Linked DNA regions of Homo sapiens: region 2 is linked to region 1. The links come from fine-mapping of genetic effects on gene expression. Tissue or cell type: blood mononuclear cells. Region 1 holds a variant in brackets; the other region holds the start of a gene. All regions are shown on one strand. Distances are from middle to middle.

What was found. PIP is the estimated chance that this variant, and not a neighbour inherited with it, causes the effect.
Region 2: it holds the start of LPP, and the variant in region 1 is fine-mapped to the expression of LPP in blood mononuclear cells (TOPMed, PIP 0.92).

Annotation. Positions count from the first base shown.
Region 1 is chr3:188,625,328-188,633,553 of GRCh38, forward strand. The region is part of intron 7 of LPP (LIM domain containing preferred translocation partner in lipoma); the gene reads left to right. All of the region lies in intron 2 of LOC124906316 (a long non-coding RNA gene), which reads right to left. Among named protein-coding and RNA genes, the nearest start is that of MIR28, 59 kb to the right of the region's middle. The variant T/G (reference allele first, on the strand shown) is at 3,978.
Region 2 is chr3:188,149,792-188,158,017 of GRCh38, forward strand. LPP (LIM domain containing preferred translocation partner in lipoma) reads left to right here and starts at 4,366. Exons shown (of 12, transcript NM_001375462.1): 1 at 4,366-4,461. It overlaps LPP-AS2 (LPP antisense RNA 2), which reads right to left and starts at 4,297. Exons shown (of 1, transcript NR_036497.1): 1 at 1,415-4,297. RefSeq lists enhancers at 2,901-3,801, 5,601-6,499 and a silencer at 4,234-4,573.

The DNA.
Region 1 (8,226 bases):
TAACAAAAATCCATAAAACCTCTGGTATTGGGATATTTAAGATAATACATTGATATATACTTTATCACTGTCTTTGATAAAATAACAGTAAAACCATTTTAATGGGACACATTTTTATAACCATTGTGAATTTGGTCCTCAAAAAAGAACTCACTGAGATGATGAGATAATGCATATTCATCCTCTTTTACAGATGATGAAACATTTCGGAGAAGGCAAGTCAGTTTTCCAATTTTTCATACTATATAGATCATTGAATCTTTGTCCCTTATATACAGAATCAACAATATGAAATATGTGGAACTTGAAATCATAGTTTCCAACTTTTCTGCCTATAGAATGCCCATTTCCAGTTGCTTAACATTTAGATTGATAAACATGAAATTCATTAAACAGGAAACTGAATAAGAGACCTGGACTAATATTTAGGTATTACTTAGTATTCCATCCAAGAAGTGTCTGCAGACAGTGACTCCATAGATGATAAGGTTGCACATATTTCAGAAGCCAAATAAATGTTGTGATTAAATGATTCAAGTCTGTTAACCATTTGGTAGTTATGATGTAAATGGCTGTTAAATGGAAAGCATTTGTAAAAATGTATGTGCAAAAATAAAGGATTTCTAACAAACCGAATGGGCCTTACCTATTTTAGTTAATACTCTCAATAATGAGCAGTGAGATTAATTTATAAGTATGTGTGTGTGTGTGTTAAGATATATTCACATTTTATGAAACCTGAAGCTTTGAAGCTTATCACTGTGGAAATAACTTCTGTATGCATAAAAGTATTATATTATTTCGGTAGGACTGCTATAACAAAATACAGTCAGGCCTTCATATTCAAGTAGGCTGCATTCAGAATTCAACCAACTGCCAATGGAAAGTGTTTGTAAAAAATAACAAGTAACAATAAAATATTAGAAAATACTACAAATTTCAAAATACAATATAACAAGTATTTACCTAGCATTTACATTGTATTGGGTATTTTAACTAATCTAGAGATGATTTAAACTATGTAAGAGGATATGTGTAGGTTACGTGTATAGCATATCATATATATAAGGGATTTGAGCATCCATAGAGTTTGGCATCTGCATGGAGTCCTAGAACTGATCCCCTGCAGATATGAAGGGACAACTGTACCACAAACTGAGTGACATAAACTACAGATTTTTTTTTCCTCACAATTCTAGAGGCTAGAAGTCTGAGATCAAGGTACTCACAAGGTTGCTTTCCTCTAAGAGCTTTCTCCTTGGATAAAAATGGCCACCTTCTCTCTGTGTCCTCACATGGTCTTTCCTCTGCTTCTCTGTGTCCTAGTCCCTCTTTTTATAAGGACAACTCCAGTCGTATTGGATTAAGGTCCACCCTAGTGCTCTCATTTTAACTTAATGGCCTCTTTAAAGGCCCTTTCTCCAAATACAGTCACAATCTGATATACTAGGGGTTAGGACTTCAACATATTAATTTGAAGGGAGACATGACTCAGCTCATAACAATTATGTAGGCAAATGAACATTTATTTTAAATGACAGAGGAAATGCAACATGTTATAAATTAATAAAAGCTATGAAATACCTCAAAAATCACATTAATAAAAGCTATGAAATACCTCAAAAATCACAAAAATCTTGAAAAATAACACTCTTATGAATTAAATTCCTGATTACTTTTTCTTACATTTTTAGCAGCATATTCATTGATTAACTAACTGTACAACCTAATTTCATAATATTTTCTGCAGAGAGAATACAAAGATAATTTCATGCTGAGAGTTTATTACTACCAGTCCTGCCTTACAACAGGTCCTTAAGGGAATGATAAGCATGAAAGACTGTTACCTACTTCTACAAGGACACCTTTAAGTACATAGCCTGCTAACACTATAAAGCAACTATACTATCAAGTCTACATAAGAACCAGGTAACAACATGATGGCAAGATCAAATGCTTATATATCAGTATTAATCTTGAATTTATGTGGGCTAAATGCCCCACTTAAAGGACACCGAGTGTCAAATTGGATGAAGGAGCAAGGCCCAACTCTATGCTGTTTTCCAGAGTCCCATCTCACATGCAGTGACACCTTTAGGCTCAGAATAAAGGGATGGAGAAAGCTCTATCAAGCAAATGGAAAACAAAATAAAGCAGAGGTTGCTATTCTATTTCAGAAAAAACAGACTGTAAACCAACAATGATTCAAAAGGACAAAAAAAGGGCATTACATAATGATAAAGGGTTCAATTCAACAAGAAGACTTAACAGTTCTAAGTATGTATGCACCCAATAAGGGAGCACCCAGATTTATAAAACAGGTTATTAGAGAACTACAATAGTGGGAGACTTGAACACTCCACTGACATTTCTAGAGAGATCACTAAAGCAGAAAACCAACAAAGATATTTGGGACCCAACACTTGACCAAATGGACCTATGAGACATCTACAGAATATTTCACCCAACAACAACAGAATAAACATTCTTCTCATCTGCACATGACACATACTCTAAGATTGACTACACACCCATTCATAAAGCAATTCTCAAAGAATTCAAAATAACTGACATCATACCAACCACATTCTCAGACCACAGTGCAATAAAAATATAAATCAATACTAAGATCTCTCAAAACCATGCAATTACATGGAAATTAAACAACTTGTTCCTGAATGACTTTTGAGTAAAGAATGAAATTAAGGCAGAAATAAAAAAAATCCTTTGAAACTAATGAAAACAGATACAACATACCAGAGAACACAGCTAAAGCAGTATTAAGAAAAATGTTTGTAGAGACAAACACCTACATCTGTAAGTTAGAAAAATCTCAACAACCTAACATCACACCTAGAGGAACTAGAAAAACAAGACCAAACTAATTCCAAAGTTGATAGAAGAAAATAAATAGTTAAAATCAGAGCTGAACTGAACAAAATTCTGATATGAAAACCATACAAAAGATCACTAAAACCAAAAGCTGTTTTTTTTTGCAAGAATAAATAAGATTGTCAGACTACTAGCTAGATTAATAAAGAACAAACAAAGAGAACCAAATAAACACACTCTGAAATGACAAAGGGTACATTACCACCAACCCCACAGCAATACAAAAAACCCTCAGCGACTCTTATGAACAGCACTGCAGACATACATTAGAAAACCTAGAAGAAATGAATAAATTCCTGGAAACATAAAACCTCACAAGATTGAAGCAGGAAGACATTAAAATCCTGAATAGACCAATAATGAGTTCCAAAATTGAATCAGTTATAAAAAACCTACCAACCAGTAAAAGTTCTGGATAGACCAGATGGATTCCCAGCTGAATTCTACCAGATGTAATAAGACTTGCTGGTACCAATCGTACTAAATAGCTTCCAAAAATCGAGGAGGAGGGACTCCTCCCTCAATCATTCTATAACGCCAGCATCATTCTGATACCAAAACCTGACAGAGATAGAACAACCAAAAGTGAAAACTTCAGGCCAATATCCTTGATGAACATAGACACAAAAATCTTCAACAAAATACTAGCAAATTGAATCCAGCAGCACATCAAAGAGCTAATTCAACCCAATCAAATAGGCTTTAGCCATAGGTTGCAAAATTGGTTCACCATACACAAATCAATGAATGTGATTCATCACATAAAAGAACTAAAGACAAAAAACCACATGGTCATCTCAACAGATGCAAAAAAGGGTTTTGGTAAAATTCAACATCGCTTCATGTTAAAAACCCTCAACAACTTGAAATTGAAGGAACATACTTCAAAATAATAAGAACCATCTATGTCAAACCCTCAGCCTGCATCATACTGAACAGGAAAAGCTGGAAGCACTCCCCTTGAGAACTGGAACAAGACAAGGATGCCCACTTCCACCACTCCTATTCAACATAGTACTGGAAATTCTAGAGCTCCAAATAGAAAGAGAGAAAGTCAAACTATTTCTGTTTGCAGATGATGTCAT[T/G]GTATACCTAGAAAACCCCATAGACTCTGCCTAAAAGCTCCTTGATCTGATAAACAACTTCAGCAAAGTTCTAGACAGAAAATCAGTGCACAAAAATCAGTTGCCTTTCTATATACCAATAATGTCCAAACTGAGACCCAAATCAGGAACACAATCCCATTCACAGTAGCCACAGAAAGAATAAGATACCTAGGAATACAGCTAACCAGGGAGGTGAAAGATCTCTATAATGAGAATTATAAAACACAGCTGAAATAAATCAGAGATGAAACAAATATATGGAAAATCATTTCATGTTCATAGATAGGAAAAAAATCAATATTGTTAAAATTTGGGGCAGTCATACTGGCCGAAGCAATTTATAGATTCAGTGATATTCCTGTCAAACTACCAATATTATCTTTCACAGAATTAGAAAAAAAAAATATTGTAAAATTCATATGGAACCACAAAGAGCCCAAATAGGCAAAACAATGCTAAGCAGAAAGGACAAAGCCAGAGTCATCACAGTACCTGACTTCAAATTAAACTGCAAGACTGCAGTAACTAAAACTTCATGGTACTGGGACAAAAACAGACACATAAACCAATGAAAGAAGCTAGAGAAACCTAGTAATCATGCTGCACACCTACAACCATTGATAGTCAACATTTGTCAACTCAAGATGGATTAAAAGACTTAAACGTAAGACCTAAATCTATAAAAATCTTAGAAGAAAACCTAGGAAATTATATTCTAGAAATACTATTCTAGGCCTTGGCAAAAATTTCATATGAGGTCTCCGAAAGCAATTGCAACAAAAACAAAAATTGACAAGTGAGACCTAATTAAAGAGCTTCTGCAGCACAGCAAAACAAACTATCAACAGAGTAAACAGACAGCCTATAGAAAGAGAGAAAATATTTGCAAACTATGCATCTGACAGAAGTCTGATATTGAGAATCTATATGGAACTCAAACAAATCAGCAAGCAAAAAGCATCCCCATTTAAAAATGGGCAAAGGACATGAACAGACATTTCTAAAAGATGTGCAATTAACCAACAAGCATATGAAAAAATGCTCAACATCAGTAATCATTAGACAAATGCAAATCAAAAACACAATGAGATTCCTTCTGACACCACTCAGAATGGCTATTATTAAAAAGTCAAAATTAATAGATGTTGGCAAGGTTGTGGTGAAAAGGGAATGCTTGTGCACTCCTGTTGGGAATGTAAATTAGTTCAGTCTCACTGTGGAAAGCAGTTCAGGGATTTCTCAAAGAATGTAAACTAGAACTACCATTTGACCTAGCAATCCCATTACTGGGTATATACCTAAAGGAATATAAATTGTTCTATTAAGTTGGTGCAAAAGTAATTGTGGTTTCTGCCATTAAAAGTAATGGCAGAAACCTAATGAAAAGACAAATGCACTTGTATGTTCATTGCAGCACTATTCAAAATAGCAAAGACCTGGGATCAACCTAAATGCCCATCAATAATAGACTGGGTAAAGAAAATATGGTATGTATGCACCATGGAATACTGTGCAGCCATGAAAAGAGCGAGATCATGTCCTTTGCAGGGACATGGATGGAGCTGGAGGCCATTATTCTTAGCAAACTAACATGAACGGAAAACCAAATACCACATGTTTTCACTTGTAAGTGGGAGCTAAACACTGAATACACATGGTCACCAAGAGGGGAACAATAGACACTAGGACATACTTGGTGTAGAGGCTAGGAGAAGGGTGAGGGTCGAAAAACTATCTATTGGGTACTGTGATCACTACCTGGGTGATGAAATAGTTTGTACACCAAACCCCTGGGACACACAACTTACTGATGTAACAAACCTGCACATGTATCCCCTGAAACAAAAATAAAAGTTGAAAAAGAAAGAAAATAATGTTTATACTTAGAAAAAAAATTATCTTTCTTCTAGCCTGAGTGATAAACATTTTTTATTATTATAGTTTTTAAAAGTTTGGAAAACTGCCTTTAATCTGCACAACTTTTATTAGTATTGTTGTTTGAAATTTAAGATAATCAAATTTGGGGACACTCCTATTAAGTTTCTTTTATTTGTGAGCTATTACAACACCCTTACTCTTACTGCAGATTCATAGCTGATGAGTTCTATTTTGTGCAATTAGCATCAAAAAGAAAAATCAAGTCAGCCGTGCATTTATAATTGTGTTCAGTGCATTACTAAGCACATTCCTAAAGAGAAAGTATCTCCATTTGCATCATCGAAAACCAAGTAGTACTCCACATGTATACTTTTACACATCTGACTATTGGTTGAATTTCCAGCAGACTCAATTTCTGTCTCTATGCATTTTACTCCTGTTTGTCTCCTCTACTAGTCTAATTTCCATGCTGGGTGTTATAGGACACATTAATGACACGTGACTTCTGGTCCCACAAATCTGTGTCACAGAGCTAGGACAGTAATGGGCCCAGGCACATTGAAGCATTCCAGGAACTCATTCCTATACAATGACGATGGGTGATGACTTAAGCACACACCATAGTGACTGCAGACCATGTAAATATATCCCATGACACTCAGCTAAATGTCTCCCTGACTCAACCTTTCTTAACCAATCTCAAAGGTCACATGTTGATTCTAACATTTCCCTACATGAGCGTACACAGAAGACAGAGTAGAAGAACCATAGTGAACATACAGCTTGGTCCCCTCCCAAGACCTTAGTAGGGGCCAGTGTACATGAGGGCCCCTGAAGCTTCATTTCCTTCCTCGTCAAAGCATGTTTATTTAAAAGTATTTATTTTACTCTGGATACTTCCTCAGAAATAGTTATTCCTTTCCTTTTTTCCCTCCCTCTCTCCTTACCTCTGTCTTTTCCTCAAACATTTATTTAGTGTATACTATATTCTAGACCCCATGTTGAAGAATAAGATACATATGCTGATGTCTACAGCACTGCATAGAAAGTAATGGGTAACCTAAGTGGTTACAAATAAAATCTACTAGCTATCCTGGTGATTTAAAGGCCACCTTCAGCTGAATGTTCAGGAAAACCTTTATGAGGAAGTAGCATTTGATCTAACCTATAGGACCGGTAGGATAGGGCCTGGGTGGGGAGACTGGGAGATGGAAAGGCATTCCAGTGTGCTGGTGCTGCACATGGTGGGACTTCTATCACATGTATTCTCTATCTGTAACAGTTAAAGTTTTTTGGTTACTTGGCCTGGGTAATGGCAAAGCAAATGTACTAAAAGAAACTCTGGTTTTGTGGCCACCTCAGTTCCTTTGGAGAATGTCCTCTCTCAGCTGAAGCTGAGAACATCCAGTCACATTTCTGTTCTGGAACCCCTTAAGCTGTTTCTGTGACAACATCTGAAAGAATTAAGCTTTATCCAAGTCACCAGAAAAGGGCTTACGTTAACTGTTTTCACTAAGACTCTACGTTTCAATACTAACACTTACGGACAAGTGGAAGGTATTCTTCAGTTGTATTTGGTAGTTCTTCTGTAGCGCCCCTTTTGTCTTCCTCCATTTCTCTCTTGCTAGCCCTCAACTCTACCCCACGTTCGTTTTCATTATCTTTTTTCTCATCCCCCATTTCCTGCTTATTTGTTTATTCTGGTGGCTCTTCTCTCTCTCATAGACGACATAGAAGCATGGCCTTCTTTCTGAACTTTCCTTGACCCAGAGGGAGAAAAGTCTAACATACTATCTTATTTATGCAATCTGAGGAAAGTTGTTGGCCAGCCATCACCCAGTGTGACCTAGTGACAGAACCAGTAGGGATATCTGAGTGTTCAGTCTTTGAATGATTCTTCCAAGTCATATAGATGTGTTGATTACTTCAATCTTGAACAAGATATGTTGTCACTATCATACTGGGCTATGAGTACTTGAGAACAGGGAACTGTGTAGTAAAATTCACCACATATGCTGGTAGCACACAGGCATCAACCAGTCTAAACAGAACCCACCCGGGTCACCTCCCACGTCACTGCTAAGACACAGTTCTTTACACAGACCATGTAAATGCTGTTGTGTTGTTTTGTCAAAGCTTCTATCACTCTTCTTGCTGTAATTTGAGAAGCAAAAGCATTAATAACCAGTTACTTACATAACTGGTATTGTAAGGCTTACTGGTGGCAGACAGCATTCCTGTGAGCAGTATTAGCACACCTCTCGATGAGAATGGCTGTGAACTACATTCTTTGGAGTAACAATAAGAAAGACTATACAAAACCTGGTCCTCTGTCTACAGTGAATGAACA
Region 2 (8,226 bases), 480 kb before region 1:
TATCTGAAAGAGAAGGCTGAGGACTCCCGAGGGAAAAGGGAAGATATGCAAACAGAGATAAGCAGGGAGAGGTAAGATGTGCTTGGAAAACTACTAGAAGGAGGGTGGAGGGTGGGGGCACATAAAGGCCTGGAAGAAATGAGGCTGAAGGGACAAGTAGGTGCCAAATTATGAAGGTCCGTGCAAACCATACTAGAGGCATTTGGCCTGATAGGTTTTAGGCTCTCAGAGGCAACAGCAGATGGGTATTTACCTTCTATCACCCATGGCCCTCTTATTCTTATTATTTTTCTAATAGCCTCTTCAGAACTTTTCCTCTTGCTCAGCTGTAGGAGATCATAAGTTCCCTACGCTTGAGTGTTCAAACTGAGAGCAGATGGTCACTCAACAGTGGGTGAGCAAGGTGCCAGGTTGCCAGGGATCAGTGTGGAATCTTAGCTTACCTACCCTCAGCTGAGTAAGAGCTTACTCAGCTTGGGGCCGGGTGCAGTGGCTCATGCCTGTAATCCCAGCACTTTGGGAGGCCGAGGAGGGCAGATCACGTGGTCAGGAGATCGAACCATCCTGGCTAACCTGGTGAAACCCCCGTCTCTACTAAAAATACAAAAAAAAAAAAAAAAAAAATTAGCCGGGCGTGGTGGCGAATGCCTGTAGTCCCAGCTACTCAGGAGGCTGAGGCAGGAGAATGGTGTGAACCCAGGAGGTGGAGCTTGAAGTGAGCAGAGATCACGTCACTGCACTCCAGCCTGGGCGACAGAGCAAGACTCCACCTCAAAAAAAGAAAAAAAAAAAAAAAAATGAGCTTACTCAGCTCTTAACACAGAGCTAGTACTTAAACTCCCTGGGCTTTAGGGCTTTAGTTTCTTCATGGATAAAATAAAAAAATAATAATGCCAACCTCAGAAGGGGTCTTGTGAGAGTTAAGTGAAATGTATATGAAAACTCCAAATAAGGACTGGCATGAGCTACACAAAGGCCACGTGTACAGGACTGTAATGGATGCAAACGAAAGGCAGGACCCAAGCCCAGCTTGCCTAAAAGTCTTTTATGCCATTACTGAACCCATGAAAATGCTGCTGGTAGCCTTTAGGCCACCAGTGTGCTATCCTTGGCCCAAACGACCCCACACTACACCTGAAATTCTGTGTTTTAGCCTCTGAATTGGTAAACCAGTATTTTTCTACCACTGAGTGCAAATTCATACAACCTTTCCATTTCACGCAAGCGCCTGCACGTAGAAAGTTGTAACAGGAGGTTGAGAAAAGTAAGAGTACGAAAGAAACCAGAACAGTAAATGGGAATGAGGCTTTTGGTAGGGTTAGCACTGACGACAACACTGTATGCAGTTCACTAAGCATCCAGATTATGACTTGGGTGGTTGTACTCTTGGGAAGTTCCTCATGAGTCAGAATTATCTTTTGTAGTTAACTTTATATGATGTTCATGCTAACACCATGCTCACCATGCTCACCTGAGCAATTCATAAACATTTCAGGAGGAGAAACACAGTGACTTCCCCAACACACCCATACAACAGTTTCAACATAATTAGTAGCATTTCTGGATCCGGCACAGTACTCTTATAATGTATATGATGGAAGAAATGAACAACTCTAATTACACCTTATTAAATCTTAATCCTCATTAGGACCCTATTATTCCTTATAAGTGAGTTACTGAAGGAAAAAAAAAAAGGAAATGCTGGTCAAGTCCCGTTATATTCCATGAGGATTGAGATAATCCATTTTTACTTCATGTAACACTGGAATTCTTTTCATACTAAACAGTAGTACTCAGAATGTGAGTACGCTGAAATGTTTGAGTGAGTGGATTGTGTTTTGATAGGATCTGACCTTTTCAGAACCCCAGAAAAAACTCTCTCCAAGAGCCCGTATCTCCCATTTCAAACTATGTTAGTTGCAAAGAGATAAATTCTTTATTAGTCTGTGGAATGGGTGGTTATTCTCGACCTTATCTCTCTGTTACTGCCTTCATATATATATATGTATGTGTGTATATATATATGTGTGTGTGTATATATATATGTATATATATGTGTATATATATGTATATATATGTGTATATATGTATATATATGTGTATATATATGTGTTTGTATATATATATATTTTTTTTTTTTGACAACAGTCTTGCTCTGTCCCCCAGGCTGGAGTGCAGTGGCGCAATCTCGGCTCACTAAAACCTTTGCCTCCCGGGTTCAGGCAATTCTCCTGCCTCAGCTTCCGGAATACCTGGGATTACAGGCGCTCGCCGCCACGCCCAGCTAGTTTTTTGTATTTTTGGTAGAGATGGGGTTTTGCCATGTTGGCCAGGCTGGCTCGAGCTCCTGACCTCAGGTGATTTGCCCGCCTCGGCGTCCCAAAGTGCTGGAATTACAGGTGTAAGCCACCGCGCCCAGCCATGTTCATATTTTTGTATGTGTACATTAGATAGTTGAGAGGAACACAGAGGTTAAGTAGTCTTACCCCTGAAATGTCTGAATTCAAACACTTATTAAGCACAAGGAAGGTGCTTAATAAATCCAATAACATGTGTTTTTACATTATTTCCTTAATTCCTGGTCAAAAGAATCCCACTAAAGTCCATCCTCAGAAGAACCACTTTTTGGAGTTTTTATGAATCAGTAGCTCATGGTGTACTCTCAACAGTTATGAATGGAATTAGGTCCTGCTAGAGGTCAGGGCCAGGTATGGAAAGATGAAGGGATTAGTCAGGAGACCTGGATGGGAGGAGGGGAAGACAGGTGCTTGGTCAGTCAGTTGTTTTGTGTTGGGCGAGTAACGTTTCTTAAGTTTTTGTCTGAGGTGTAAAGGGGGGACTACGCTCTGTCCTATCTAACTCACCTGAAGATGCAATAGCCGGGTGAGAGACTGCTTTCATTATGTGCTAACGTGAGGGATTACTTTAGATATTAATAGGAGAGAAGTGCAAGGAAAGGAAGTCTCAGGGTATGGAATGCTTTCCTGGCCATGGCTGCTGCGCGTCATAATCCCCTAACACAGTTAAGTGGTGGTTCTCATCGTCGTTCACCCTTACAGATGTCAGAGGGGAAAGAAAAATCCAACTCAAAACTTCCAATGACAGGCTTGTCTGTATTCAAACCAGTTCATCTCGTTCGCAGACTTTTTTGAAGCTATAAGCACAGAGCAAGCTTTCTGGGCGGGGCTCAGAAGTAAACGTTAAACTCCAGGGATTCATTTATTTGAGCACAGGACAGAGGAAGTTGCCCTGAAGCAACTGATTGTCATTGATATTCAGGGCTCGCTGTCAACCAGGACCTTCCAGGAACTGGCTCTGGGCCAAGAGCAGTAGAAATCACTGGGTGGTCCGCACAGCTCGCGGGCATCTAACCTGCTTCAAGGCTCAGGGCTAAAAGGGAGCCAGGGCCCTTCCTGGAGGCGGGAACCCAAGTGGGAGGCAGAGCGCCTGGGCCCGCTCCTCGATCTGCTGAGTGACGACCCTGTACAAGTCATTTCTCTTCCGAGAGCTTCAGTTTCCTCACGTGCCAAGCGGACGGGTTGGAAGTTGGTCTTTGCCAGCTCTGACACCTTGTAAGTTTTGAGTCTTGCTGGGAATCCAGGGCGGGGCTCACGAGGAAAATCTTGGAAGGGGATTTCATGGCTGGATCTCTTCCACTCAAGCTCAGTGCCCTAATTTGACGCCTTAATAGTAGACGCAGGCTTTTCCATTTTCCAGGAGCCCCCTGACGCGGCCGCTTCCTCCTACGTCTCCTTCCTCTTCCTCTAGCAGGGGCAAAGTCTCCACATCTCCCTCTTTCTCTTCCTCCTTTGCAAGCTCCCTGCATTCCCGCGTCTCCTCCTCTTCCTCCCAGGAAATGCAATGCCCTCAGTGCGCCCACCTTTTGGCAAAGCCACTGCCGGCTGCGGGTTTCCCCTCCCCCGCCAGGCGAGCTCTGCGCGGCGGCTTCGCGGGCACACGCCTTCCCATACCTTACATGGACAAATGCGTGCAGGCAAAGTCAGGAATTCAGGCCCCTGACGTCAGCCTCCAGCGCTCAGGGCACCGCACGGGAGACCAAGGGGAGGGGGTGGGGACGGTGGGGAGGAAGGAGGGGGAAAGGCACCAACCAGCAGCCGCTCCAGCCCTGCCGAAGTTTCACTTTTTGTCTGTGGGTTCGTTCCCGGGTCCCGCGCGAGCTTTCCCGGGATAAGTAGCTTTAGCGATCGGGAGACAGCCGGGCGCTGCAAGGTAAGGGCTGGCTGCACGGCCCGGGGCGCGGGGCGTGGGGCGCTGGGCGCGGGCGGCGCGCTCGAGGAGGCCAGTGTGGGGCGCGGGGCCGGGCCTGTCCGGGGCTGGGGACAATGGGAGGGGGAGTGCCCGGGCACCTCCTCCTCTGCCTCTGCCTCCGCCTCCAGCCGCCGCCGCCGCCGCCGCCGCCGCCACCACCACCGCCGCTGCCCCGGCTGCCTCCTCCCTGAGGTATTGTTGCAAATCCTTCCTTCCCCTCACCCTCCACCCGCGGGCGCCTCGGGAACCCCCAGCCCTCCCCCGGCGCGAGCGCCTCCGGGGTGGCAAGAGCGCAGGGCGCGCGCCCTGCTCTGGCCTGGCCCGCTGTGCGGAAGTGCCGGCCGCGGCCCAATCACGGGGTGCACGCCATGGGGGAGGGGGACCCAGAGTTTTTCCAAAAGCGTCGACCCCAGGCTAGGCGGGGTTGGAGCCTTGCGCGCCCCCTGCCCGGACTTTTCTGGGCGCCCAGGGGGCGGGGCCACGCCCATCCGCTTAGAGCTTTCGCGGAATCACAGTTGTCACAGCGGAAAGGGCCTAGACCCAGTCCTCCAAGTCCTCCCATTTTACAGTTGGGGCAGCTGAGGCCCAGAGAGAAGGAGGGTCGCCCGGAAGTTATTTACTAGAGGCCAGACCATAATTCAAATAGTTGGCTCCGGACTTAAGTTCCCTTTCTCTAAGCATTTCTCTAGCACCCTGTGTGTGGCAGACCCTGTGCTGGGTGTATTGGACGTTGCCCTCAAGGAACTCAGTTGAACCTGGGAGTCAAACCTGGCCTAGGGTAGAAAATGCTAAGTGCTGGAGCAAAGGCGTGGACAAAGTTAAAGGAAGTTCCAGGGAGGGGGTTTGATTTTCTGGTCCCTGGGACGGCCTTTTGGAGAGTCCTGCACTGAATGGGGTTTTTGGAGGTTGAGGAGTTTCCTGAAGCCAGCTAGCGGCTTGGAGGAAGACATCTCTTCGAGGGAACCGTGGGCCAGAGAAGACTAAGTAGTGTGGGAAATGGAGATGAAAGTATAAATATTCTTTAGTTGGAGGCAAGGGGTTGGGGATGGGGGAGGTTGTGATATGAGATGAGCTAATCAGTGGAATTGTGCCTGGGTGCTTGGACAGGGCAGAGTCTTTGGAACCTCGGAGTCGTAGGAGAACTGAAAAATCTCTCTGGCTTCCCTTCCCTTAGAAGGGATCCACTGCTTTCCCTCCCCCAACACAAAACAACTAGCGAGAACTCAGGGTCTTCTCTGGGGCTTTTGCTAGTACCAAACTCACTTAACTGTGTTTCCAGTCCCCTTTCTCTTTCCATTCCTTCCCCTTTTACTAAATCTCTTGCCTTTCCTGTAAAATTCACTCTCACTAAGGTGTTGATGACTTAATGGCTTACCTTTCCCTGCACATGTGCATTTTAAGAAAGCCTAAAGTGAAGAAGGGGAAAGTGTGGCTAGGCACCTTTACAAAGCATCTAGCTCCCTCTCCCATCCTCCCCCTTCCTCAACTCTTATAGATAGAAGAATAGGTAAAGGTCCACGAAGGTGGGTGCTAGACCTAGAGCCTATGGTCAATAATGGTGGACAGTGGGGGGTTAGGACATCCAATATGGTTTTCTCCACTTCGTCACCAGTTTTTCTGCTTGCACAGTTCCTGCCAGCACCAGGGGGCAGTTAAAGGAAAAAGTGTGTGGGCCAGGCACGGTGGCTCACGCCTGTAATCCCAGCACTTTGGGAGGCCAAGGCGGGCGGATTGCCTGAGCTCAGGAGTTAGAAACCAGCCTGGGCAACATGGCAAAACCCTGTCTCTACTAAAAATACAAAAAATTAGCTGGGTGTGGTGGCGGGGAACTGTAGTCCCAGCTACTCGGGAGGCTGAGGCAGGAGAATCGCTTGAACCCGGGAGGCAGAGGTTGCAGTGAGTTGAGATCACACCACTGCACTCTAGCCTGGGCGACAGAGGGAGACTGCCTCTCAAAAAAAACAAAAAACAACAACAACAAACAAAGGAGAGTGTGCATTTTTGCATTTAATTTCTACAATGCAGGCCCCAACCCCAACACCCAAAACTTTATAGTCTAGAATGTAGGCTCCAGAGGGGATTACCTATTCTGAATGGTAGGGGTAAAAGCCTGGGGCCTTAGGGTCTGGCAGTCCCCCCAGAGGCAGGCTCTCTGTAAGCAGCATGGGTCTAGAGTTGGTTTTGAGTGTACGCAGAGGGAGGAGAAGCTGAGCTGATGAGCTGATTGCTGTGGCTGGGACTTGAGTAGGATCTTTCTTAGAGTGACACATTCTGGTGAAGACAGTTCCAGGAAATGATGGACGGGAGAGGAAACTTGGTTATAAAGGGGCTTAAAAATGCCAGGCTAAGGAGTTTGGATATATCTTAAATTCATCATTTGAGGGTTTTGAGCAGGCTGAGACATGATTTAGAGGGGAGGTACTGGCATCGAGAAGCCCCCTGCTGCCCAATTCCAATGAGAGAGGTAATAATTTGGCCTAAGAATATTATTGGCTTGGCACGATGGCTCAAGCCTGTAATGCCAGCACTTTGGGAGGCTCGAGGCAGGTGGATCACCTGAGGTCAGGAGTTTAAGACAGCCTGGCCAACATCGTGAAACCCCGTCTCTACTAAAAATACAAAAATTAGCCGGGTGTGGTGGCATGTGCCTGTAGTAGTACCAGCTGCTTGGGAGGCTGCGGCAGGAGAATCACTTGAACCTGGGAAGAGGAGGTTGCAGTGAGCCGAGATTGCACCATTGCACTCTAGCCTGGGTGACAGAGTGAGACTCCATTTCCTCTGCTGCGCCCCACCCCCCCAAGAAAAATAATATTATCAATTGGTTCTTGTTCATTTACTCGACATAGGTTACTGAATACCTATTACGTACCATTGGCAAATATGAAAATTTTATAGCAGATTCCTGTATTTTATTGAGACAAATACGTTGTATCGAATCAATTGTAAAACACACTTTTTTCACATTTTAATATCACTGAAATGTGGTTGTCTTATTACAATGTACCATAGTTGTGCAGTTGTTTTTCATCCTAAGTTGGTAATGGCACATCTTATAGTTGATGGCTTAAATCTGATAAAATTGTTCATCATGTCGTTTATGAATGTACAGTGCTTTGCACTTTATAAAACACTTTCCAATCAGATACTCCATTTGAATCTCAAAGGTCCCCTGAGAATGAGGCCTGCTGCTGCTGTCACCTTTATTTTAACCCTTGCCCAAGGTCATATAGCTAATTAGGGATGTGTTCAAAATTACAACCCAGAACTTTTGCTTCTTGGTGGTGACGTGTGACTTTACCCTGCTGTTGAGCCAGTCTGGGTTAATTGGGAATGGGGCAAGAGTTAGATCGGATTTGATTTCAGAACTATGCTGAAGATGCTGGATGATGGGGATTTTGTACACGGGTAGAGTGTAACTCATAAGAACTGTGTAGCCCCCTTAGCACAGATATTTGCTGCATTAAGCAGAAAAAAGACAGGGAGATAGAAAATGGCAGGTAGCAGGTAAAACCCGGGGTTGGAGCCTGCTTACGGTGAACCAGAAACTGGCTTGGCCCTGAGCGTACAAAGATGAGGTGTACATGGTCCCTGCCTTTGAGGAGCACACAAGTGTGTGGTGTGTGTGAGGGGGAGGGAAAAAGGTGGAGTGGGGCATGTCCGTGTATTAAGTGCTTTTACAGGGTAAGTTTTGGCTGCTCTTCACTGAGAAGGCTCACCCTCAGGGAAACCACTATAGAGAGGGGGGTGTCTGAGCTGAACCTCTAGGAATGAGTAGGAGTTGTCCAGGTGGAAGAAGGACAGGTGAGAGAAGGACCTATTAGCAAGATAGTAGCAGATGCAGAAGCAGGGAGAAGCTGCTTTATTCTCCAGGCTGTGTTTTGAAAGGCCAGCCATGAAGAGGACCATGGAAAATGGAGAAAGAAGAGGGCCTTTACTTTTTAATAAGTAAGGTTTAAA